3 separate regions of the Homo sapiens genome follow, and all the other regions are linked to region 2. Evidence: fine-mapped expression QTL. A gene starts in region 2. Each other region holds a variant in brackets. All regions are shown on one strand. Distances are between the middles of the regions. Region 1 has its middle 92 kb from the start of GOLIM4. Region 2 holds the start of GOLIM4 (golgi integral membrane protein 4). Region 3 has its middle 170 kb from the start of GOLIM4.

Region 1 (8,181 bases), 92 kb after region 2:
AGGATTTGGTACCAAGAGTATAGTCGGGGTGGGGGGTGGGGGTTGTGGGAGGAAGGCACGTTTATTGGCAATGAGTATAACGGGGCACAACAAAACTAGTACACATGCAATGACTGGTTATTTGCAAGAGTGATTGGGAAGAGTTCTAGGAGTAAAAGCATAATCTTAGCCACATGTGCCAGTGACTTAATTTTACAAAGGAAAACTTGACGTGTATTGAATGCCCTCATAGTGTAAGAAGTATGTGAATAGGATCCACTTCAATCCCCACAGTATTCCTGTAAGGTTGATGGAATCCGCTTCTCACAACTGAAGAACCTTGTCTTCCAAAGCACTTAACATTTAACTTCTTTTAATGCTTAGTTTTGTTTTTAGTTCTATTACATTGTAGTACATCTATACTATGTCATCTTACACAGCCATTAAAAAGAGTGAGTTAATTCTATTTCTCAATCACCTTCTGTGGTTTCTGTTTTACTGTTTTCTCCTAGTTTTTTCCTAGCATACTGACTACATTATCTTTTTTTACAGGTTCTTCTTATGCCTGCTCTTTCAATATTAGTGTTCCTCAGGTTTTGTACTAGAGGTATTTTTTCTGTTCAATCCTCTTCCCATCTATGTGTTATACAAATGTCTTGAATCCATTTCCTTAGCCTAGCTTTCTGTGTCCCATCCTATGTAAAATATGTAAGTTTCAAAACTGAATTTACCTTGTTAAAACCTGCTTCTCTTTCTAGGCTTTCTGTCTCAACTCATGACGTTTCCCAAAACAAAAACATGTTGTTTGTCCTTGATTCTGTCTTCTCTCCTTTTGACTGCTACCAAAAATATCCTCAGATTTGCCCACTTCTCTCCATACTCACTATTCTGGTTCAGACCCCTGTTACCTTTCACATGGACTAATATAACTGTTCTCTAACTCATTTCTTCATTTACTCTCTACTGCCAATCCCTAAAATCTGTACCAGTGTGATTTTTCTAAGGATACCACACCTACCCCATTATAAAATTTAACAAATTGCTATTGCTCATAGGAAAAAATCCAAACTAATTAACATAACCTACATAATTCTTTATGATCTGGCCCCATCTTATCCCTTCTAATACTGAATCATAATAAATGTGATTAATCTTTGTCAAGCACATTCCTCTCCTAATGTCTTGGTGTCTGACCTTAACCCATGTGTGGATGGGAAATTGACTTTTGCAGTGTTCGTAATACTATCCCATCTCCTTGGACAAAGTGCTTGATAGAGGACAGGCACTTGACCTCAAATACATCAATTTTGATTCCTTCCCTGGAATTTTTTGTTGGAAGCCAATCCCTCCATGGAGTTTCTACGCAGCTTGTGACAGTTTTTATCCTAGACTGTGTTTTCAATGATACCTGCACAGCAAAAAGCCTTGGAAGCTAGAGATAGTATCTCCTTCTGGGTTGGAGGGCAGATTTGTTTCTTGACTTGAATAATAAAGATGATGTCTTCCTTTGAGAAAAAGTTTAGACAGGTTTGACAGCAGCTTCTTTGTAAGATGAGGGTTTCCTAAGATCAGAGATCCTCAGCTATGACAGATGCCCACTGTGTGTGCAACATCCACTTGGGCTGCTCTGCATGGACCTCATGGCACCTGGAGACTAAGGGGAACTGATGTGAACATGAAGCTCACGACTGCTGCTGGATCATTAGAAATGGAGTCCTTTGTCTCTGACCCAGCAGTGTAGTTCCTTCTGCCAACATCCATGAAACTGCAGCAGGCAAACTTGTTAGTTGTAAGGTGGATAAAATCTCATACGCTGCACAATCATTGGCATTTTTGCAGGCTGTGGCAAATAGAAGAGAGCAGCTCTGTTTTCTCTCCCAATGGTAAAACTACTATGTCATGAATTCAGTGCTTCTGGTGTTCATTTACTTCGTTGTGTGGAAAAAAAATAGTCTATAAAAGTAGACAACAAATTTTACCTATAAAGATATGCAAAAGTTAGAGGCAGAGATGACGAGAGAGTTGTGGCATTTTTTCCAGTCCCTATATCTTGCCATCCCTGATGCCAGCCAAGTCTCTCTATAGGTTAGTTAATGATCTGATAAAATCTACTGTTTCATTTGACCTAGTTGCATTTCTGTCACTTGCCACCTGAAGATTTTGGACTCATAGCTGAATTACATTCAGTTCCTTTAAATCATCATGTTCTCTTATATCATGGTATATTTGCCACCTACCCTCCCCGGAAACACTGTTCAACCCTTATTTGCTCTTCTCTCTTTTGCCTGGCTGGTTGCTTTGGGTCTCATCTTAGATACCAATTCCTCTGGGAAGAGTCTACCTCCCACTCTTCTGACTCCTGAGTCTGGGATGCATACCCTTCTGTTCTATAGCACCCATGTTATCCATATCATATCACAGTGCATGGAAGCAGTCTATACATTTGTCTATACTCTCCTTGACATGTATATTCTGGAAGTAGAGACCATATTTCTCTTGTCATTATTGTATCCCAAGCACTGGCATATAGTAAATTTTCAATAAATATTTTTTAAATTGATAGCTTAGAGTCCTCATCTGTAAAAAGGAAATATTGATTATTTCAAGACCATATGACACATATTAATAAATGGCAGAGCTAGGAATTCTTCCCAGCTCAGTCTGATTCCACTGTTAATTTCAAATATATCAAGGATTGTTTGGATCATTGTCCATTGTCACATTCTGAGTTTCATATATTAAGAAGGTATATATTAAATTCTGCAATAACAAGTACTAAGAGGGTCGAAAAATGAATGAAGTCTCAGCCACAGGCTCTGGAGGAGGAACCAAGATATTGGAATTACTTGATCTAAGAAAGAGATAGTCAAAGAAAGAAATAACATTGTATGTCTCTTCTTTGAAGCATCAATTGTAGCATAAAGAATAAAGAATTTCTTGAGAAACCAGTGAATGAATCTGTGAAATCTAGAGAGGTTTTCAGATTAGAATATATTTAATAATTAATTGTGATTGCTAAGAGGCCTGCCTAAGCTGAGGAATAGATGCTATATCTGTAACACGTTCCTTGGGTCTTGTGACTGTGATAGGAGGGCCAGTTGTTATTGGAATAGGATATGTGCTCATCCACTGGTTGGCCTTTTGTCTCCACACTATCACTTCTGCCCCTCGTTTGTAGCAGGTCCTGTAACCACAGGAGTAGGCCAAAACCTGATCTTCTAGACCCCATCTTCTAGACCCCATCTTCTAGACCATAGTGATTGATGGAGGAAAGCAAGCATGTCCCAAA[G/A]TAGCCCTTCAATTTCTCAGTCTGAGATTTCTGCACTGAGGCTGAATAAGAGAAATGCTGTCTAGATGCTTTGGAGATGGCGTGAAACACATACACCAGGAGATTGCAGGAGTCATAGTCCTCATCATGTGGAGAAAACCAAGTTGCAGCAGACAAGAATGATGCCAATACATAAAAAGGAGTAGGAATGGAGGGAAGGAGGAGACAGGAGAAGGCAGGAAAAGGAGAGAGTCAGAGAAAGGCACAAAGAAAGTAAATGGTGTTCAAATTCCCATGTTCTGCCTTCCTATGATTTTATTTGCCAGAAAATCTCCCTCCCCTTTATATCTTAACTAGTTTGAGGATCTTAAACTGACCAAACTAAAGAAAACTGGCTTACTTCAGCATTATACATTTTATGAAGCAGAACAATATTAGCGTGACAAAGGAAATATTTTGATTAACTTTTAGTCCTTTGGCCTCAAATGTAGTAAGTTTTAATAAATAATGACATGGTTTTTAAAAAAAAAATCTTTTTTCTTCTTGGATCTGTCTTTGAGGCCCAGAGGATCTGTGATAAAAGCTTAAGGATTATCGTTAATGAAGTTATGAGTACTCTTGTATCCCCATTGTTTCGTCTACATCAAAAATTGGCAAACAACTTCTGTAAAAGGCAGACAGTGAATCTCTTAGTCTTTTCAGGCCGTGGAGCCTTTTTTGAAATTACTCGGTTCTGCCTTTGTACTGTGAAAGCAGTCAGAAACAATAGGTAAAGGAATGAGCATGGCTGTGTGCCAATAAAACTTTATTTACATAAACAGAAAGCAGGTCAGGTTTGGTCCTCAGACTGTAAACACCTGGTCTACATGGTCCAAATATTTGTCGTAAAAACAGTTATTTCTACACACAATAGAAGATTTTGAGATCATCAGCTATTAAGGCTTTCTGGTTCTTTGTTATAATCCCTTCTATTTTAAATTGGCAAGCACTCAACATTATCTTTGTTGCTACATTTGTACACTATTTTAAATAATTGGAAATGAAATCCTTTTGTCCTTTACCATCTTGGCTGACCTTGTTCTCCCCATTCCCTGTATGTTACTAATGGAGCTTGAAATTCAGTGTCATTTCTGTTTATCTGTTATTAACGCATACATAGCATGTCTCATAAAGTACATATCTTTTAAAGAACTAGTTCATTGGAACATGGGCTTGTACGAGATGAGATGATATCTTTTGATCTGGTGTGTCCTTTCTTCTTTCAAAATTTAAAGTATGGATACCAATTACAATAGCTGTGTATTAATACATTAAATTCAAATTTGTGGTCTTAGCTCTGAGTGTTTTGGGTTCTGTGGGTATCTAATTCCTGTTAAGTTTATATACCCTAGTATAATTAGACTCTATTTCATAAAGAGAGTCAAAATACATTTTATATTCTGTAAAACCTGGTCAATTATCTTCTGTAATGGTTTTAAAATTGGTTCACAAAATCTTTGATAGTCTTCCCTTCAAGAGATAGAGCCTAGTTCCCTTTCCCTTGAGCATAGGCTAGACTTAGTTTCTGGCTTCAAACAAATAAAACTGAAGGAAAGTGACCATGTATGACTCAGAGATTCAGTCATAAAAGCCAGTTTAGTTTCCTCCATGTTATCTCTCTTGGATCACTGACTCTGAAGGAAGCCAGCTACCATGTTATAAGGCTATTCAAACAGCCTTGTAATGTGACCTTCATTCATGTGGCAAGGAATTGAGGCCTTTGGCCAACAGCCTGTGAGGAGCTGAGGCTTCCTGCCAACAGCCACGAGTGAGCATGGAGCAGATCCTCCAGCCCCAGTCAAGCCTTCAGATGACTGCAACATGACTGCAACCCTTTTAGAAACCCTGAGCCAGAACCACCTAGATGAGTTATCCTAGACTTCTGGCCCACACAAACTATGTGAAAATAAATGTTTATTCTTTTAGGTTTGGGAGTAATTGGTTACACAACAATAGATAACTGATATATCTTCTAGGCAGAGTTTATGACTCAAAAGGGAGAGGTCAGGGGTAAAGATGATCTGCAGCTGCATGGTGTTACTGGGCAGCCAGCCAGCTGCTCTGCTGGAAGACAGGTTTAGATGTGTTGGTGAAGGAAGATGGAATTCAGCTTAATGAGCTGAATAAATTTAAGCCAATTTATATGTTCAAAATTATTAGATAATATTTTGGCAGATATTAGTAACCTTTCAACCTTGGCTACAAACCTGGAGAGTTTTAAAATAATGATGCCTGGATCCCATTCCCAGAGACTCTGAATTAATTGCTCTGCGTTGCAGTCTGAGCATCAGGATTTTTAAATTTCCCTAGGTGATTTTAACGTGCAGCCAAGATTGAGAACTACTGCTTTGTAAGTTAGGAGTTGGAAAGAGTAAGCTTCCCACCTCAACATTTCTCTACCAGATGGCAAATTACAATGAAAGCAAGTCTCAGACCAAATCTGCAAAGCAAATATTTACAGGCAAGTCGAAACAGACATCTAAACTTTTCTTAAGGCCCAATGAAATTATAGTTCCCAATCTTTTCAGGCTTTCTAGACAGGCATGAGGCATGAAGGATTTGCTCAGGACAAATCCTATAATATTTTAGGAGCAGAATTCTGTTAAACCTGTAGTTACATCCTGTGCCCAAGCCTTCCCTTAAGAGGCATATGTTCTTCTGCAATGGGTGTTGGAGTTATCAGATCCTCATACCTCTTTGTGAGAGGGTAGAGGTGCCTGTACCATAATTCCTACAACTCATTCACATATTTTGAACACTATTTCCCCAATGAAAAGAAGTCTTTAATATCCATAATGCTGGCCAACGAAACACTTAATGCTGAATTGAGATAAAGATAGTGGAAGCATTTATGGTAGCAGCCTTCAGAATGTGGACTTCGATGAGAGCACCAGTTTCTCAACCCTGGCTGTGTATTACATTTTTAAAAAAGACCTCCAGACCTCACCCCAGTCTAATTAAATCAGAAGCTCTGAGAGCAGAGCTTGACATTAATATTTTTTAAAAGCTTCTCAACAAATTATGATTGATAGGGGTAATAGTTATGAGAAGATTGGGACTCTGAAGGGATAGAACACACAGGAGAATTTTTTGGGGTAGTAAAATGGTGTTTGGGTTGTGGGGGTAGTTATACAAATCTATACATGTATTGAAATTCATTGAACTGTACAACAAAAGAAATAAAATATACTATACAACAAAAGAATACTGTACAACAAAATAAAATATTAAACTGTACAACAAATAAAATATTGATTTTATTGTATGATAATTTAAAAATAAAATAGTATAACTGCTAAAATATTTTTGAAAGCCCTCTGATGATCTTAATGTAGAGCCAGGATTGAGTCACTGTACTAGATTAAGAGCTGGTCAACCATTGCTGGGATGTGTATTCATAATTAGGCACCACCAATATTAACCTCCTAAGTTGACTATCCTCTAACCACTAACCACACACATGCCCATACCCTTGTTTGTAGACACGCCACATTGTCTATGGTGAAGTAGTTTTTTAATAATTACAAATATATAAAAGTGAGATACAGCTGTCTTTCACAGATTAGATTCACACTGAGGAATTTTAGAGTATGGCAATGGGAAATTGCATGAGTCAGTAGTTTTATTCATCTCTGCTCTTAGAGAAAAAACTACTAGTGTAGTTGCTCTCCCTCAAAACAATGTTTCTCAAACCTATTAACTCTGGCTTTTATAGAATAATGCAGAATCCCAATAGGAGAGCTGTTTGGCAGTTTAATTAGTTTTATTTCTAAGTGAGACCACAGGAAGAAATAAATGTATCATGAAACAGTGTGTATGAATATATGTGTATATATTGTATAAATAAAATAAAAGTTTCAAGAAACATAGGCAGGCCTTTCCTATTTTATTGTGCTTCAGTGGAGTGCTGATCATGATATCATGATGAATATATATCATCAGGGGATGGTGAGCCAATTACAGTTGACTGGACAATAGAACCAGGTTCTACTCTGGAATAATAGACCCAGGCATTTATGCTTCTCCCTGCTGTGACATAAGGAGACAGATAGGAATTTGACCCATGGCTATACCATTCAAATGCTTTCGAAGCTTTATTCTGCATCCCTACTTTGGAGTGGGTGTTAACAGCACCTGGGAGTTTCTGCTATCCTCCCTTTTTATAGCATCTTGGCTTCCATTTCCTCAGAGCTGTAAGAAGGCATATGGGCACAGTCAAGGTTAATAGAATGGAGACTCTGATTCCCATCCTTCTCCTCTGCTTTTTCCTTTTTTAGCCCCACACCTGGAAATATTCCTGGTTTTTGAGGACAGAACAGCTGAATTAATAAATGCCTGTTTGTATGCACATAGAACAGAGGAATATATGCACTTTAATCCTTTTGGTATTTCCCTGTGGCCTGTGCTCAGCTCTTGAATTGATGTGTGCTACCTATGGATAGATAAGCTTGGCTTTGCTTCCTTCCTCCTCACTCTACCATTCATTCTCCTTGCACTATCAGGCTGGTGACATCAAGATGCTGTGAGCCACAGTTCAGTGTGGAGGATCAACTAGCCACCAGCAAACATCGCATAGTTTCATGACATTATGTATTTTTAAAATATTTGATGTCATAAGGATAATAAGACAAAGTCTACATTATGCCAGGGATTGACTTCTGGGAGGAATCTTAATGCTAATTCAGGTTTCTTGATATCTTAGAAAAGCAGACATTCTATGGCTTGATAGTACTACTGATTTTATATGATATCTACGATAGAGAGAATTTTCTCATTTAGCATAGACTGTTCAATAGCCATTAAAGAATGTCATAGGCATTACTAATGGAAACTGAATAGTATAGTATGAATTTGATGTGTAGCTGAGACTCTGATATGAACGTATGATCAGTTTT
Region 2 (8,191 bases):
AGTAAACTAAGTATAGCTTTCATAAAAATCAATCCAATAAATTATAATATTTTGGGGGAGGGGACATTAAAAAATGTCATGTTTTACTGGCCACTGATCTTTTCTGTGGTATCTCTGCTTATCTAAAGTCTTTGACTATTAAAGGCAGTGAGTTGGTGAGAAGCTGGATGAGCCATTGGAAGATTTAGGAAGTTCACTTCTGAGGCTCACATATGCTCCCTTTCCATTCTTTCTAACTTCCTATGAAATTAAACTGAAAAAAAAATGTGGTAGTTAGCTCATTATATGCTAGCTGTAACAAACATTAAGCAACATATTCATAATGATTTCGTATACTGCCTTAGAATTTGGAAAAGTTTAGGGTTGGCTAGATATCCTGCTTTAGAATGTTGTTAGAGGTTTGAAATGATAGTTCCTCTTCCTTTAGACTAGCTACACATCCTGTGGCAAATAGGGACTTCTAAATCACGTCCATTATTAGTAGTCTGTATTCAAAAGGTATTTATTTATTTTTATTTTATTTTATTTATTTTTTTTTTGAGATGGAGTCTCGCTCTGTTGCCAGGCTGGAGTGCAATGGCGCAATCTCAGCTCACTGCAACCTCCGCCTCCCAGGTTCAAGCGATTCTCCTGCCTCAGCCTCCCGAGCAGCTGGGACTACAGGCACACGCCACCATGCCCAGCTAATTTTTGTATTTTTAGTAGAGACAGGGTTTCACCATGTTGGCCAGGATGGTCTCGATCTCATGACCTCGTGATCCGCCTGCCTCAGCCTCCCAAAGTGCTGGGATTACAGGCGTGAGCCACCGCACCCGGCCTCAGAAGGTATTTCTTAGTGATATTGATGGTAAGGTTTCTCTCATTGAAAAGCATTTTTATAAATAAGAACAAATCATCTACTTTCTCCTCTGCCCTCCTCTTCAGATATAGTTGAAAATTACAAAGGTGGCAACGTAGTGACAGATGTAAACAAGGCATAAAGATACATTGAGTGGGGTTCAGTTACTCAGTTATGCATTCAACCACAGACCTACTTTTTAGTTTGTTAATCTTCTAACAATTACTACTAGGTCATTATCAAAATCCTATGAAAAAGGAGTCTCAAAACATCTTTCACAAAATGTTCAAAAAGACATAATACCTTGAATGCAGCTTTCTTTACCTCTCAAAACAGGTCAGGTAAAAGTGGCAATCAGCAAGGCAAGTGTATTCATTAGGGGACAGCAAACTGATGAAATGGCAAAAAGGTGAAGACATCATAGAGTGAAGATTGTTTTATAGGATAAATAACTTTTGTAATTGTCAGATGAAAAGATTAAAATTAGTTTATTAATACTGAAAAGCTATTTTAAATTTTATTTACTATTCATCACCTTTTCTTAGGTGATGATTTCTCCTACAAATTACAAAATATTGAGTTCCATTTGTAGTAAAGAAATTTAAATAAAAGATTTAGATAATAGAAATTATTTACTCTAGGATCCTAAATATTATTAATTTAAAATCTTACTTTTAGAAATTATACGTCAGCTGTCTCTCTCAACTTTTTATTTTTTCCTTCCCTTATTTTGAAAATGAACAAATTTGATTAAAATGACAAATTCACTTAAGTTAGAGAGAATTAATATTCCCAAATGTTATATTTGCCCTTCTCAAATGTAAGACCTTGAGTATCTTTAAGTTAATTTCTTCCTGCCTCAGAAATAAAATACTAAATCAGTAAAATTCTTCAGGGTTTATAATTTAAAGTTAAATATATTGTTAAATATATGGAATATAGAAATATAATTATATATACTATTTTTAAAATAACAAAGAAGCAAAAATAAAATAGAATGAACAACACACCTTCCAAGACCAGTATAAACAGCTGTTATGTTATAATTGCTACCCAAAGGCAATGTTATGTAAATTCATTTTATAGGCCTTGGATAGCTTCCTCATGTTGGCCGCTCAAAAGCTCTATACTGACATTTTCAGGAAACTAGCAGCATACTTTACCTTGGAAATGTAATATTATAAAAATACCACCATTAGTAATTTTATGTACTTCTACATACCCTTCTTGAATTTGAAATAATGGATAAGTTCAGGTAATAATTTTTGCTGTCTTTCAAATTTTATGACTAAAATATTGAGTTGTGTTTTATGGCCTGCATTTATTATGTTCTGTAGAGTCAGCCAGCAGCTTTAGGCAAAGAATATCTTTGGAGTCTGGAATCAGATGCAAAGGAATCAGAGGTTTAAGATGAATCATACATTCAGGAAACATAAGAATTTTCCAAAGATTCTAAAATACATATTGTACAATATATGAGCAATAATTTTCCAACCCTCTATACAACTTCTTTTTCTTTTGTGGCTAGGATAATTTTCTCTTCAAATATGGGGCAAGATTATTGCCATAAACTTTATTTATTTATATATTTATTTATTTTGAGACAGAGTCTCACCTCTGTCGCCCAGGCTGGAGTGCAGTGGTGTGATCTTGGCTCACTGCAACCTCTACCTACCAGGCTCAAGGGATCCTCCCAACTCAGTTTCCCGAGTAGCTGGGACTATAGGTGCACGCCACCATGCCCAGCTAAATTTTTATATATTTTTTTTTTTGTAGAGGAGGGGTTTTGCTATGTTGCCCAGGCTGGTCTCATACTCCCAAACTTAAGCGATCTGTTCGCATTAACCTCCCAGAAGTGCTGGGATTACAGGAGTGAGCCACCATGCCCAGCCTAAATTTGGATAGTGTTTTTGGAGGAAGAGTTTGTTTAACAAAGTACTCTGACAACAGTAAGGAATGTTTAGTTATGAGGAATTTTAAAGAGATTCCAGTAATTATCCAATGTTAATTTCTGAGAGTCAAACTAAAAAAGAGGAATTTAAAGTGGTAGATTTAATAATAAGGAAGATTATGTAGTATTTACACAACAAAACTCCCAAACTCCTTTAGACTGTTTTCTTTTACAATCAGATTCTCATGTTAATGGAGATATAATTTCTTACTGTAACTTGTTTAATAGAATGAGAACATTGTTTCTATTGAAGAAAAAGACATAGAGCAGGGTTTGGATCTGGATTCTAATCTTGCTGAGTAACTAACTTTATGCAAGACCTAAAAGGTCCTAGAGCTGTCATAGTCACTTTGATAAACTTTGGCTTCTTTACCAACATGAAAGTCTAACACCCTGGCTGTGATCAGTGAGACAGTGTATCTGCACACGAAAGCATTTTGAATAATTTAACGCAAGTTATTATTTATTAAGGAAAAGCACATGCAAGACACACTTTATTTTTACAGTGGTATAAATGCCACAGGGTAGCATCGTTATAAATTCAGTTTATTTTAGGGCTTTAGCAACCTATAATTTCAGAGTCCACCTAAAAAAACTTTTGCACCAGGAACTGTCTTTCTGTTGCATTTAGCTAAAGAGATTTACCCCCATTTTGAGCACTCAGGCCCATTAGCAATGGTAACGACTAAAGTCCAGTTAGAATATAAAAATTATGCAGTGTATCATAAATTACACCACACTATACAGACAGATAAAATTTACTTTTCTTAGAATTCAGGTCAACAGCAGAAACAAAAATTATCATTTGTGCATAACCTTAATTATTCCCCTCAAGTACACAGAAAAAATAAATGCAGTATACATTTCTTCGAAGAGGTTTGTGGTTACTACCTTTCCTGTGCTGTACTAGTTTTTACATAGGGAACCTTTGTTGCCCTTTAAAATGTAATTTAGAAATGTAACTGATGTGTTTTGCCACCAATAAAACAAATACATATGACAAAATGAATGGATACTCATTTCAGTCTGTACGATTTGTTTTTAAATTATTCTATTTGCAGCTAGAGGAGAAATGTGAGACCATTTCTTTCCTCTCTGCCAATGGCAAGCCGATTTCCCCAGCCCACGTGGACAATTGAACATTAAGTCTAGCGTGCTTCCAGTCTCCCGACTCCTGCCGGGCCATCTGTGGGCACACACACATCTAGGCTAGTACACTGGATGGGGTAAGGCAGTCGACATGGCATCTCTGGTTTGACTACCGGGATTGTGCTATGTAGCTATCCCATGTGTCTGCCGCATCAGTTTATTGGACAGGGAAAGAAAGTGTACTCAGCAGAGTGCACACAGTTACTGCCATCCATTCTTTCGTTCATACACACATTTTACTCCGCTCTCCACGTGCGTTCCGAACGAGAACTGGAACACACACACACACACACACACACACACACACGTGTTCACCGAACCTCACCCAGACTCAGGCCCGGACAAGTCCCCCGCCCACCCAAAGCTCCCCGCCCTTCGCCCTTCCGCCTGCCTCTTCCCACCCTCTCCGACTCCACGTGGGCGCACCCCGGCGCCAGGCGGCCGCGCTGCCCACAGAGCCCCTAGCCGGCCCCGGCACTGGGAGGGAAGGTGCGGCCCTGGGGTCGGACGGACAAAGCCGGCATCCAATCGAGCCCGGCACTGCCTCCCCGAAGGGAGGGAGCGTCTGCTCGGACGGGCCCAATGAGCAAGGAGGCCGAGTGGGACTTCCTCCCGGAATCCCGTTGGCCAGAATAGCCGGGCCGTGGGTGACACGTAAGTTGGGCAGGAGGTGGCGGGGCGGCAGAGGCACCAGCCGACCCGTCAGTGACACCGCTGTGCCGTCCCCAAAACCAGCCGAGACAGCTGGCCCCCACCCTTCCACCCATTGGGCAGGCCGCACGGGGGCGCGGCCCGGAGTCCTGGTCCCTTTGTTGGGCGCGCACCCCCTCCCTTAGGTGGCAACAAAGTCGTGCAGTGGGAGCCGCCGCGATAGGGCGGGGAGTGGCCAGGGCGGGACTCCAAGAACTGCCCGGGGGCAGCGGGGCCAAAAAGTGGGAAGAAGGAAAAAAGGCAGGAGGCATCTGGGGACAGGCGCGAGGGCAGCCGGCTCTGAAGTATGCGGAGGGCCTCCTCCCGGCCCCGGGCATTCGCGGAGAACGAGCCTCGCAGAAGTTTGGCTGCAGCTGCCCGGGCGGCGTCGATGGCTGCGCGCCCCGCGCCGCGCGGGGGCTGAGCGGGCGCCACTTCCCCTCCGGGCCGGCTTTTGTGTCTGGCATCTCCTCCTCATGCTGCGTCTGGCCACCTACTGCGGCGGCCGCTGCTGAGACGCTCGCTCGGACCAAGGGGAGGAGACGGCGGGGGCGGCCGCGGCTTTGGGTCCAGGCGGGACTATGGGAAACGGGATGTGCTCCCGAAAGCAGAAGCGGATTTTCCAGACGCTGCTGCTGCTGACCGTCGTGTTCGGCTTTCTCTACGGCGCGATGCTCTACTACGAGCTGCAGACGCAGCTGCGGAAAGCCGAGGCGGTGGCGCTCAAGTACCAGCAGCACCAGGAGTCCCTCTCCGCCCAGTTACAAGGTACGGCTAACGGGACGCGCGCAGCCGGTGGCCAACTTTGCCCCGCGCCTCCACCCGGGCAGGAAAAGTGGCTTTGGTGAGCTATTGGCACTGTGGTTGCCACCTCTGACCTTCAGGGACGTCAGAGGTGAGCGTTTCAGGACTGCCGGCACCAGAGTGTCAGGGGAGATGACATTCTCATCCTCCCGCTTCTTCCTCCCAGCGGTTAGGTTTAGAACTTCGTAGCACCAGCCCATCGTCCCGCTGGGCGTTTGGTGGGCGGGTGCACAGATAGTCCTTTACCCGAGCTCTTGTCAAAGGCCCAGCTGCAATCGGGGCAGGGAAACTGGTAGCCCTCCGCCGCTTCTGCCAGCCCTGCTCTGAGGAGCATTGTTCCGTGGATTCTAGGTATTTGCTTTCTTGTTGACTTTGTCAGTTGCTTAAAAAATGAAGAGTTTGGCAGAGATTTCTCAAACTGTGCTGTTTTTCAAGGGAAAATTAAGCCATGACCCAGCAGCTTAATTAAAGTCATGGCCCAGTCGAATGGAAGGAACCTAGATCTGGACCTGCTAGTTTCTTATTTCTTATTCTTTTAATTTAATAGGATGTCTTTAGAGATGCTGGATGTGTGGGAAAAGTCCACACTACATACCATTCACCATCCTGCAGTAGTTTATTTCTTTAAAAACAGGTTTACTTGTCTTCCTAAGTAGCTTTTACTTCATCACAGAGATGCATGTATGTTACAGTTAGCTTCGGGAAGCCAAAGAGGAGAAACACAGGTTTTCACTTTGCCATGCACAGCAAACCCAACTTGAGCAAGACCTGTAGAAGAACTTAAAGTTTCTATCCTATTTTAGAATCTAATTTAATGTAATTTTCACAAACATAATTTACTTTAAATGTAAATTCAGAATTTGAATTTGAATTTACTTTTAACGTAAATTCAAAGTCAGCACCATGTCCTCTTGTTAAGGACGTATCCTATACATATTTTTTTTGCAAGCTTTTACTTGTGGTTAGTTTTCAATACTTATGCAGCTTTCTCCCCAACCAAAAAATAATAATAAATAGCTGTAAGTGGTGAAATGTTGGCAGACTTTGCTGATGATGCAAATATAGCTTGTTTAATATTGCTAGGTAGATAGATGCAAGCTAGAGGGATGTTTCTGTGTATGTGTGTGCAGATATGAAACAGATGCCTCTTCTTTGCTTCAGTTATTTTGAGTGTTTTCTAGTAAAAAATTTAAGATGAGAGAAAATGATACACATCCGATTGTTTGGACTTAACTTGCTCTTCCCAACTTAGAAGAAAGAAAAGTATTTTTAGCTTACTGACGCTGCATAGCCACAGGCAATGAAAATATATGGCTCGGCTTGGTTCAAAAGTAAAACCCGTTTTGATACGCTCTTAGGTTCACAAAATTTTCTTTAAACTCATTGAAATTTACCCATGAGTTATTGTTGGTATGAGAATATGGATATTTGTTTACTTATTTATTTACAAGGTATCAGTTGCTTCCCTGTGAAGTTCCATGGAGTCAGACCAAGGGAAAAATTTACCGTCTAATAGTATAACAGGACTAGATTTTCATAAACATGGCTGGAAGGGGCATGTATGGTGGATTATATGAGGTTGTGTGTGCCTTGGTCTCTTAGGAGTCCCATGAGGGCAAAGGCTGTCATTTTCACCATTACCTCCTCAGCACCACACTGTGCCTGACACTCATTAGGGGAATCAATGCATGTTTATTCAAACAACAAACAAAAATTATTCTGAACTGTGGCGAGTAAGTTCATCCCAGGCACTTTTGTCTTTCTGAGACTTTGCTTCTGTGTCTTTGCTTTTTGAAAGCCAAATAAAACAAGAAAATATTTTGTTCAAGTAGCTCCTTTGCCTCAACGGCCTATGATGGACGATGGATATTGTTGACTGAGGCCCTAATTTCTGAATAATGGCCTTTATTTGCAGTATTTCATTTTGAAATTTTAGAAATTTCTTTTCTAATTTGCCTTTTCTTTTTTTAGTGGTGGTGGTGGTAGTGGGGAAGAGAGGTGGTAAATGGTAATACAGGATCATTAAAATATACAACTTTTGTTTTGCAGCAGATGGAAATGTTCTACCTAATTTGAATAAGTGGCTTCAAAGTCCCTTTCTTAATTTATTCTTTTGTCATTTCCTCTCTAATTATGGTGCTACAAAACTTGCAGTATAATTGTGCATGAATAATTATTTCACAAGCAGGCTAAAGTATTTTTTTGTTTGTTTTTGTTTTTTGTGGATTCACTTTTGACTTCAGTAGCATTTATTTTGGATTTCCCATGTGTAAGCCATTTAATGTACATTTTCTGGTGGTATGCAACTTTTGCTTCCCTTTTCCAAGACAAATGACATTTTACTCAACAGCACTGTGTACCACCTGCATAGATGGGCTTTTAGGACATCAGGCTCTCCAGTCTTAATACTTGTTTAGTTAGGTGGGATTGCTTGACCTGGCTTGGATTAAGATCAGAATTAATGACTTTAAAAAGAGTGGTCTTTTTAAAAATGACTCTTGAAAAAATTTCAGTAGTTTAGACCTATAATCTGATGATGTGCGTTCGTTAAGTGAGCGTATTTAGGTCACCTTCAGTTTAAGAATAGATTATACTCCATAGATTCCTTTGAAAGTGGGTTACTTGTAACCCCAAGTTAACAAGTTTTATTGTAGAAGAGCCCCATAACTAGAAGATGGTGGGGATGGCATGCAGAAAGGTCAGAGACTAGGCAAACCCCTTCCACTATAAAAATATCTATGTCTGCCTGTTTATCTATC
Region 3 (8,191 bases), 180 kb after region 2:
AGAGAAAATATATGTAATCATTGAACGGGTGTCTGCTTGCAAAAAGAAGTAAATAAACATTTAAAAACAATTCATCAGAATGAGTTTTACTTCTAAAATATGGTGGACAATATACTCTGTGGATACTTAGTACAAATTCATTTGAAAGGCATCTTAGGTCTTTTACTCAGTGATCAACTGCTGTGTCTTTATTTTTATTTTAGAAAGCCAAAAAGAGAGAGACTATAATTACTCCGAATAATACAGACCAATATTCAGCTATTCATTGCATTTTATAGCTCTGTGTGACAATAAATATATGTTTATATTAGTTCCTTATTTTAATCCTTCATTTGGGCAACAAGGGATTGCTATATTATTAGCTTTTTGTGTAATGTGATCTGCATAGGGAACATCTTTTACCTATCTAAGACCATACTGGCAATAGATTGAGAATCCAGATGACTGGAATCTATGAGACTTATTCAAGATATTGCTTTGATGGTTTATAGTGGGTTTTGACTTAGGTCAAATAAGATACAATGTTCAATTTGAAACTATCAGCATATTTGTATTTCATATGTAACCACATACTCTAATATTGAGAGTAACTTGAGATTAGCATGATGTTTTAGCCACAGGACTCTGGAATACCAAAATCCTTCTCTAGAAAAATACCTCTCACAATTTTCTGGAAAGAGATAAGTGATGATGACAATGACCAGCTAAACAAAATAACACTTTATTAAAAATTGAGTCTTTGCTACTCCAAAAGCCACTGACAAAGTCTGGTAAATTGTGCTGGGATTCAACAGAACTCATGCCTAAGTGATATACAAGAGTGACCATCATCCTGTTGAGCTGACATTTAGAAAGAATCACTCCTATAGAACAAAAGCTGTATCTGCTAGCTCTGAAAGACATGGAGGCAAGGAAGCAGAAAAGAGTTTTTGCTCCATTTGCCCAGCACTGAGTTAGCCTAGACCACTTGCTGTAGACCTTCAAAGATCAAGGCAAGGTCTCCTGCTGTGCAGGAGGGTGGAAGAAAAAAAAAAGTGTGTGTGTGTGTGTGTGTGTGTGTGTGTGTGTGTGTGAAAGAGAGAGAGAGAGTCAGAGATAGACAGAAAGCTGGTACCCTTACCACTTTTCAAGTGTGGAAGAAGGAAAACTGGGGAAAGCAAAATCAAAGCCCTCTTGAAAACTCCAGCTGTAGAAAACTCAGCATGTCAGCAATCAGTGGCCAAGCAGTTCAGCTCTAGCTCCTTAGATGGAAGGAGAAGGAGAGGAAGGATAGAACTGCTGACTAGTGAACTGATTTGGTCATGGGAAGTGGGTAGAAAAGAAGCCCAGAACAACCTCAGGGCTAACATCTGTCCCATAGATAAGTTCATGATTCCATGAGATTTTTGGTTTTCACAAAGTATTTTTTCAGCCATATAATGTTTATTTCTTTAGACTCATGACATACATTTTTTTAAAGTTTTCCAGCTCCAGAAATATAATTTCAAGGAGTATACATCCAAAGTTCACTCACCTACTCAATACTTATTGAGAATAACCCTGAGGTTTTTGAGGGGTATAAAGAAGAACTAAGGTGAATCTGCCCTTGAAGAAACTTGCATTTTAGTAGTCATTGTCAAAAATAACTAGCATACAAACTATTAAGTAAAAATTGCCATAAAATATATATAGCTCAAGGACACTGAGAGCTTAGAGAAAAATGAAGATTTTTTAAGCAACAAATTTCAGTATGATTTGTATAAACTCGTATAATCAGTTTTGAAATGACCATTTAGAAATTATAAACAGAATGCATATAATACTTCTTTTGAAGAGACAAAAAAGCAGAAAGCAAATATACACCTGAATGATTCAAATATTGATGCATGTGGTCCAAAGCTCTAAAACTAATTAGATATTTGGTTTCATGATTGCAATTAGCCTTTAAAAAAATAGGCATCTATTAACATAGTTTGGCATTATAATGACAAACAATTAGTGATAATTGTTCTATTCTGGAAAGAAATAATAAATGGAAGTAGTTGGCTTCTAAATAAATTAAAAAGTAAGCTTGCTAACCTAATTTTTAAAATGTGGTATGGGGAATTTATTTTAGGAATCTTCCACTTTGGATGTACAAAGAACTTGAAGAAAATAAAATTCTTTTTCTTGCTTTGGTTATTTCTCATTAGCTTTCCCTTACCTTTCCTCCACCCTCCTAACCCCACAGACTCTTACGTTACCCATTTACATTTCCACTTGAATATTAGAGAAAATATCAGAGTATTTTCAAGAGGCTGGAAGCTGAGAAAAATTCCTTATAAGATGGAATTAATTATAATCACTTGAGAGATTTGAATAATTAGTTGAAAGTTACAGAGGGCAGATATCAGCTCAATATAAGGAAGAACTCCCTGAAGATTAGGAAGAATTAAAAACCATTTTCTTAGATGTTTCCAATACCTCAGTTTATTCAAAGGCGAATTGGAAAGTCCTTTACTGGATATTGTAGAGCTGATTGATGTAAGCATTCACTGGGACTAGTGAGGAGCTAGGCTTGTTGATATGTAAGTTTTCTTTATGAACTGAAAGGCTTTCTGTCACTGAAATTATTTTCTAACAAAGGAGTTATTCACATTATGTTTCTGTCTCAGAAAATTGAGTCCCCTACACAATTTATTCCCTGAAATTGTTTTGAACTGACCCATCCAGATAATCCTGCACCTGGTAGACATGGGACATTCAGGGGAAGAATGAACTTGGGACACAAAATTAGATATGAGATACTAAGTTGCACATGCTCATTCTTTTTATACCTATTACCTCCAGTGTATTGGAGAATAATTAAATATTTCAGAAGGGTGGATGTAACTATAAGTTTTAGGATGAGAGCTTGGTGTCATTCAGTTGAGTTAAATAGAATGTGGTCCGATGTCAGCCATCTTTGGCACTTATGCACAAAATTTCCACAAATATAGTTTGATTGTTGATAAAAATCCCTGAATTCTCCAACGCTGTACATCTTCTGGTATGCTAAAACCAAGGAGAGAGTGGCTCAGATCTCTGTGCATTATAGAAGATGCAAGAAAGTACTACAAAGGTCAAGTGAGCAGATATACTAGAAACTACAGCAATGCAATTATTGGATATGTCATTATGGGTCACCACTGATGACTGGTAGAACTACCGCCACTACAGTGAGTAGACAGATGCAACTTTGGGGTTTGATGTTATTTAGTTTATAGGTCTTCTAATCAGTCCCACTCTGGCATAGACAGATATTACCAACTTCGGCCAAACTGCTCATAGAACCTGTACAGGACATCAGATTGCAACATCAACACATATCTTCAGATTAGCATGATCTACATCTTGAGACACTTACCAGTGAGCCTAGCCTTCCTCATAGCTAAGCAACCCAGCACTTGTTATCCTTGTATAAAACCCATGATTTTCTTGTCAGTTAGCATGTTTTTGCCTGCAAGAAACAGATAACCCAACATAAAGTAGCTTAAACAATAAAATGATTTGTTGGCTGTCATAACTCTCCAATTTCCTATGCCCTTATAACGTCGATTTCCAACACTGTTGCCCTAAAGTTTTCAATATATTTCACCTAAGCTTTTTTTTTTCAACTTTTATTTTAGATTCAGGCAGTACATATACAGGTTTGTTACCTGGGTATATTAGATGATGCTGAAGTTTGAATTATTCCATCACCCAGGTGCTGAGTATAGTACCCAATAGTTAGTTTTTGAGTCCTTTTCCCCTTCTCTTCCTCCCACCTTTAGTAGTCCTCAGTGTCTCTTGTTGCCATCTTTATGTCCATGAGACCCAATGTTTAGCTCCCACTTATAACTAAGAACATGTGGTATCCATTTCACCTAAACTTTTGAAGTTGTATCCTACCCGATAATTCTGCCACTCATTAATAATTTCCTACAATAGCCATTTATTCATTCATTCAACATTTCAAGTGCCTGCTATCCTGTTCTGGGGGGAAAATACATCATTGAATGAGTTATGTTGCAGTCCCTAAATTTAAGGAGGTGTGTTAGTAGGGAGAGGGTAGGCTATGGTGCAACATCAAATGATAACAGAGGTTTACTCTCTGACTATCCATCTTTTATAGAATGACCGTGGCTCTGCTCCATGCCAGGTTTACCTCAGGACCTAGGCAGATAGGCCTTGATCGGGAAATTTGCCCACTGGTATGGCACAAGGAAAGAAAGTGTGACAAGGCACAAACTGTTTCTCAAATTTTCTGCCTGCAAGTGACCTATATCACATTCATTTACATTTCATTCCTCAAAGCAAGTTGCTTGACATAACTGACTTCAATAGTGAGGGAATCATACACCTCTTCCAAGGAAGGCACATGGATATTGGTGAAGAGTAGTGCAATCAACCATGTGACATTAAAATTTAGAGCAGAGATCAGTACTACAGCCTGCCACATCATTTTGTAAATAAAGTTTTA[C/T]TGAGACACAGACACACCCATACATTTACATATTATCAATGGCTGCTTTTGCACTACAATGGCAGGGTTGAGTAGTTGTGACAGAGACCATATAGCCCAGAAAGCCTGAAATGTTTACCATCTGGTCCTTTACAGAAAATATTTTCCTACCTTGATTTAGAAAAGCAAAAAGATATAAAATAAACTGCAATATTTAATCATGCATGTCCTGTGTTTATTAGCTTTTAGCAACAATGATGATTGCTTTCTTTCTATACAGACTGCATTAGGATACAAGGCATATTTTTGAAAAAATATTGGTTTCTGGTGATAAGCAATCTTCTGGTAGCTTCAAGATTCCATCCAGCATTTTTAAGTTTGGCAAACAGGAGAATACTCTAAAGCAAAAGTTAAAAAAAAAAAAACTATATTGAACAAAAGCATTTTATTTCACTTATTCTCTTTATAAGTGAATGGACTTTGCCTATTGTTATAAGGAAGATGAATGGCTATCACTTCATTCTGTGTTGCTTATCTTTGCAGTGGAGCTAAAATAAAATATTATTCATATTAATTGACCTGATGACCTTGCCATAGCTTGCCCTTTCAGGGATCTAATAGATCTTTCAGCAGGTGGTAAATATTGATCAGAGAAATGGGACTGTCTACAATCTGTTTTTATAAGAGAATTTCATTCCAGTTTTTACAGTCTTATAAGGGAAAAAAAATCAATGAGTGGATTTAGCCAACTAACCATGAGAGAAAGAATGAGATCATGATATATATGCTCATTACAAAGTTAAAAGTTTAGAAAGAGAGAGAAAGTAAAGCAAGCCCACAATATTCAGTGATAGTTAAAGAAGAATTCTGGCTGATAAATATAAAAGAGGGAGTGGGAAATAATATTATGCTGTTATTTTTTCCTGAAAGCGAGCACTTCTAAAGCTCCTATTTCAAATTCAGGGAGTCACTTCTATGTTCAGAAACAGATCCTTCAGTTCAATCCAGTTAACAGTGGTCATGTACATAGCGGCATTAAAAAGCAGCATTTTCTTTAGAATGACAGCTTTTCTAGATCTGGGAATTCTGAGGGCTCTGGCTGGGAGAAATCTATGGCATTTGAATTTGCCTGCATGAAAGATACTGAAACCTTTTAGCAGATATGCTAAGTCAGCTAATGATGGAACTGACCTCCTTGAAAGCCCCCATTGGCTGCATGATTTTCTTAACATGAATTGCTTCCTATGCATCTCTTTAAATCCTCACAACAACTCTGTCAGATTGGTTTTTATCCCTCATTTTAAGTAACTTATTCAAAATCATAAGGCCTGTAGGTGACAAAGCAAATATTAAAATCTATGTCTTCTGGCTTCAAAATTCATACTTAGCTGGCAAGAATTTCTAGCCACTGATTTTTTTTTTAAGTTAAGCAGTAATGAACTAATATCATGTTTGACTCCTAGAGAATGATAGAGAAGTTTGCCTGTAGGTGTCCCAGAAATGGGGCCACCTTCTAACCTACTGGGATTTACATTATTAGCTCTGTCATTAAGTCCTTTCTCTTTTGAATTGTGCTGTCTTCTTATTGGTGGATCTGAAACAAAGGAGGAAGGGAAAGCAGTCACAATTCTAGGTGATAATGGTCAAGAAAAGCTTGTACTTTAAATAATTCTGAGCATGGTGTGTAAAAAGAGTCATCTGAAGCTCTGGCCCAAATCCTCAACACAGATACCCAGTGACAAAATGAAAGCTGTTATAATCTTCAAGGTGTGGATTTTTGGCTGGGTAACTGAATCCATGTTTGAATGAACTTCTGATTCCAACTTAGTTCCTTAGCATGAGTGGATGCTTAAACCTTTTCTTCATACTCTAAAATGACCCCATCATTCTATTCAATGTAACCCTGCACTACCTAAGTTAATATAACCTGGCTTTTTCTAACTTGAAAGTCAGCGTATATACACCTTGGACTCAATCCAATAGAGTTAATACTGGAAAAACAGAAGAACCTCATTATATCCCTCATTCCTACATAACTCTATACCACATCATGAATTTTGTAGACGGAATTACAGTAAGACCTCAGGGCATATCCAATTTCAGACAATTCATCTTAATACTATTATTGTAAGGCATTCTTTGAAGAGAGGCAAGTGGCTGAGTTGGGACCAAAATGCTTTATAAAACCCCACATATGAATTAACAAAACTGAAATACAATACTATTAAATTATCCTTATGACTAGGACTGTGCTTTCTTATGAATGATGTTGAAATGTCCAGCTAAACCTCCTTTGATTATAGGAAATATAATTTTAAACCTCCAAAATATTATTATGGTTAAATATTAGCTCAATATTACAGCAACTGTGCTGCTAGTTTTCACTGTTATGTGAAAGCAATTTAAGAATTTATTATCATCACAGACATGAAATTTTGCTTCCAGACTCCAGTCATAGGGCAGACAACTGGAGTAATGAGATTTATGTAACAACAGAGATTATAATTTCTATTTTGACAAATTTTCATTGTACGTCAGGCGTTGAAGAGTCTAACATCATATAGGCTTCTGGAATACAGTTGCTGTTCATGGGAAAAGAGCAGTGTGAGAAAAGAAGATGGTGAAAACTACGTCTTTTACTGAAATTGAAGTAAACAAAAGATTGTAATCATAGGATATAAATGGACCCTGGAGATGATATAACTCTTTGTTTGACAGATTCGCCTGGGAGGGGAGATGACCTCAGTCATGGGTGGAAATACAGGTTGTAGAATTCAGTTGCTTGTTTTTATCCTTTTAATTCCCCTAAGTACACTAATTAGTGGTACTGGGAATTAGCTGGAGATAAATAAGTGGGCATATTACTGGGTGCACACTTCAAGGTTTAGGTTCCATTATTATCATTAGGAATGTTCCCAGTTGTGACAAAGTAATAAAAATGGTTTCTTCTTGGCAGGTTTTTGAGCTCTTTCAAGCACTGGAGTAAATTGAATTCTTCGTATTCACTTAATGTTGCCCTTGGGGCCCAAAGAGTGAAAGTAAAACCAGAGAATAAACAATTTATAAAATTGTCACATAGAACTTAATAAAATATATATGTATGTATAATTTTTTAAAAGACATAATATCTATTAAGCATGTGGGAGAAAATGTGGAATTTGAAAGTCTAAAATTAAACAACTTTGTATAGGTAAAGTCATTACAGAAGGAGCCTAAAAATCTGCACAGTAACTATAAATTAACCAAGAGAAAAGAGTATATTAAGAAAAAATTGTTAAAAGATGAAGAAAGATTAGTTCAAAAGTCTTTAGGTGAGATCAGAAGCATGAAGTGTTCAACATAGAGTAGATTCTATAAGTATTTGCTGGGTAAATTTGAGCAAGAGAGGGACAATATTTTAAAATATAGTTAAAAGTATAATATTCAATGAAGTGCAAAAGATGACTTAGTGTGTCTGCGGCCTTACTGCTTCCTGTAATTTTGGTGGAACTCACAAGGGTTCCTCTTGAGAATAAGGGATTCCAGTGGAGTGCACCGTAAACTGGAGAATCCAGTAAGAGTCTCAATGTGGTTTTCGGCCAAGGATAAATGCTGTATCTGAGGTATCCTTGGTAACTGTTTGAAAGATATGAGATGGTTTTTGCTCATATTTAAAATTCTGCAGCTGGATACAAAAGATAAACATCTTGTTACTTGTCTCCTAAAGAGAATGGTTAACTACTAAATCTAACATAGGACTAGCATGCCTTATGT

Evidence for each region.
Region 1: its variant is fine-mapped to the expression of GOLIM4 in fibroblasts (GTEx, PIP above 0.99).
Region 3: its variant is fine-mapped to the expression of GOLIM4 in ileum (CEDAR, PIP 0.95).

The regions. Positions count from the first base shown.
Region 1 is chr3:167,999,997-168,008,177 of GRCh38, reverse strand. No RefSeq gene overlaps it. Among named protein-coding and RNA genes, the nearest start is that of GOLIM4, 92 kb to the left of the region's middle. The variant G/A (reference allele first, on the strand shown) is at 3,269.
Region 2 is chr3:168,092,304-168,100,494 of GRCh38, reverse strand. GOLIM4 (golgi integral membrane protein 4) reads left to right here and starts at 4,571. Exons shown (of 16, transcript NM_014498.5): 1 at 4,571-5,396. The coding sequence starts at 5,210. RefSeq lists enhancers at 3,796-3,845, 4,043-4,544 and silencers at 4,216-4,455, 4,746-4,795.
Region 3 is chr3:167,917,210-167,925,400 of GRCh38, reverse strand. It overlaps the pseudogene LRRC77P. Among named protein-coding and RNA genes, the nearest start is that of GOLIM4, 170 kb to the left of the region's middle. The variant C/T (reference allele first, on the strand shown) is at 4,460.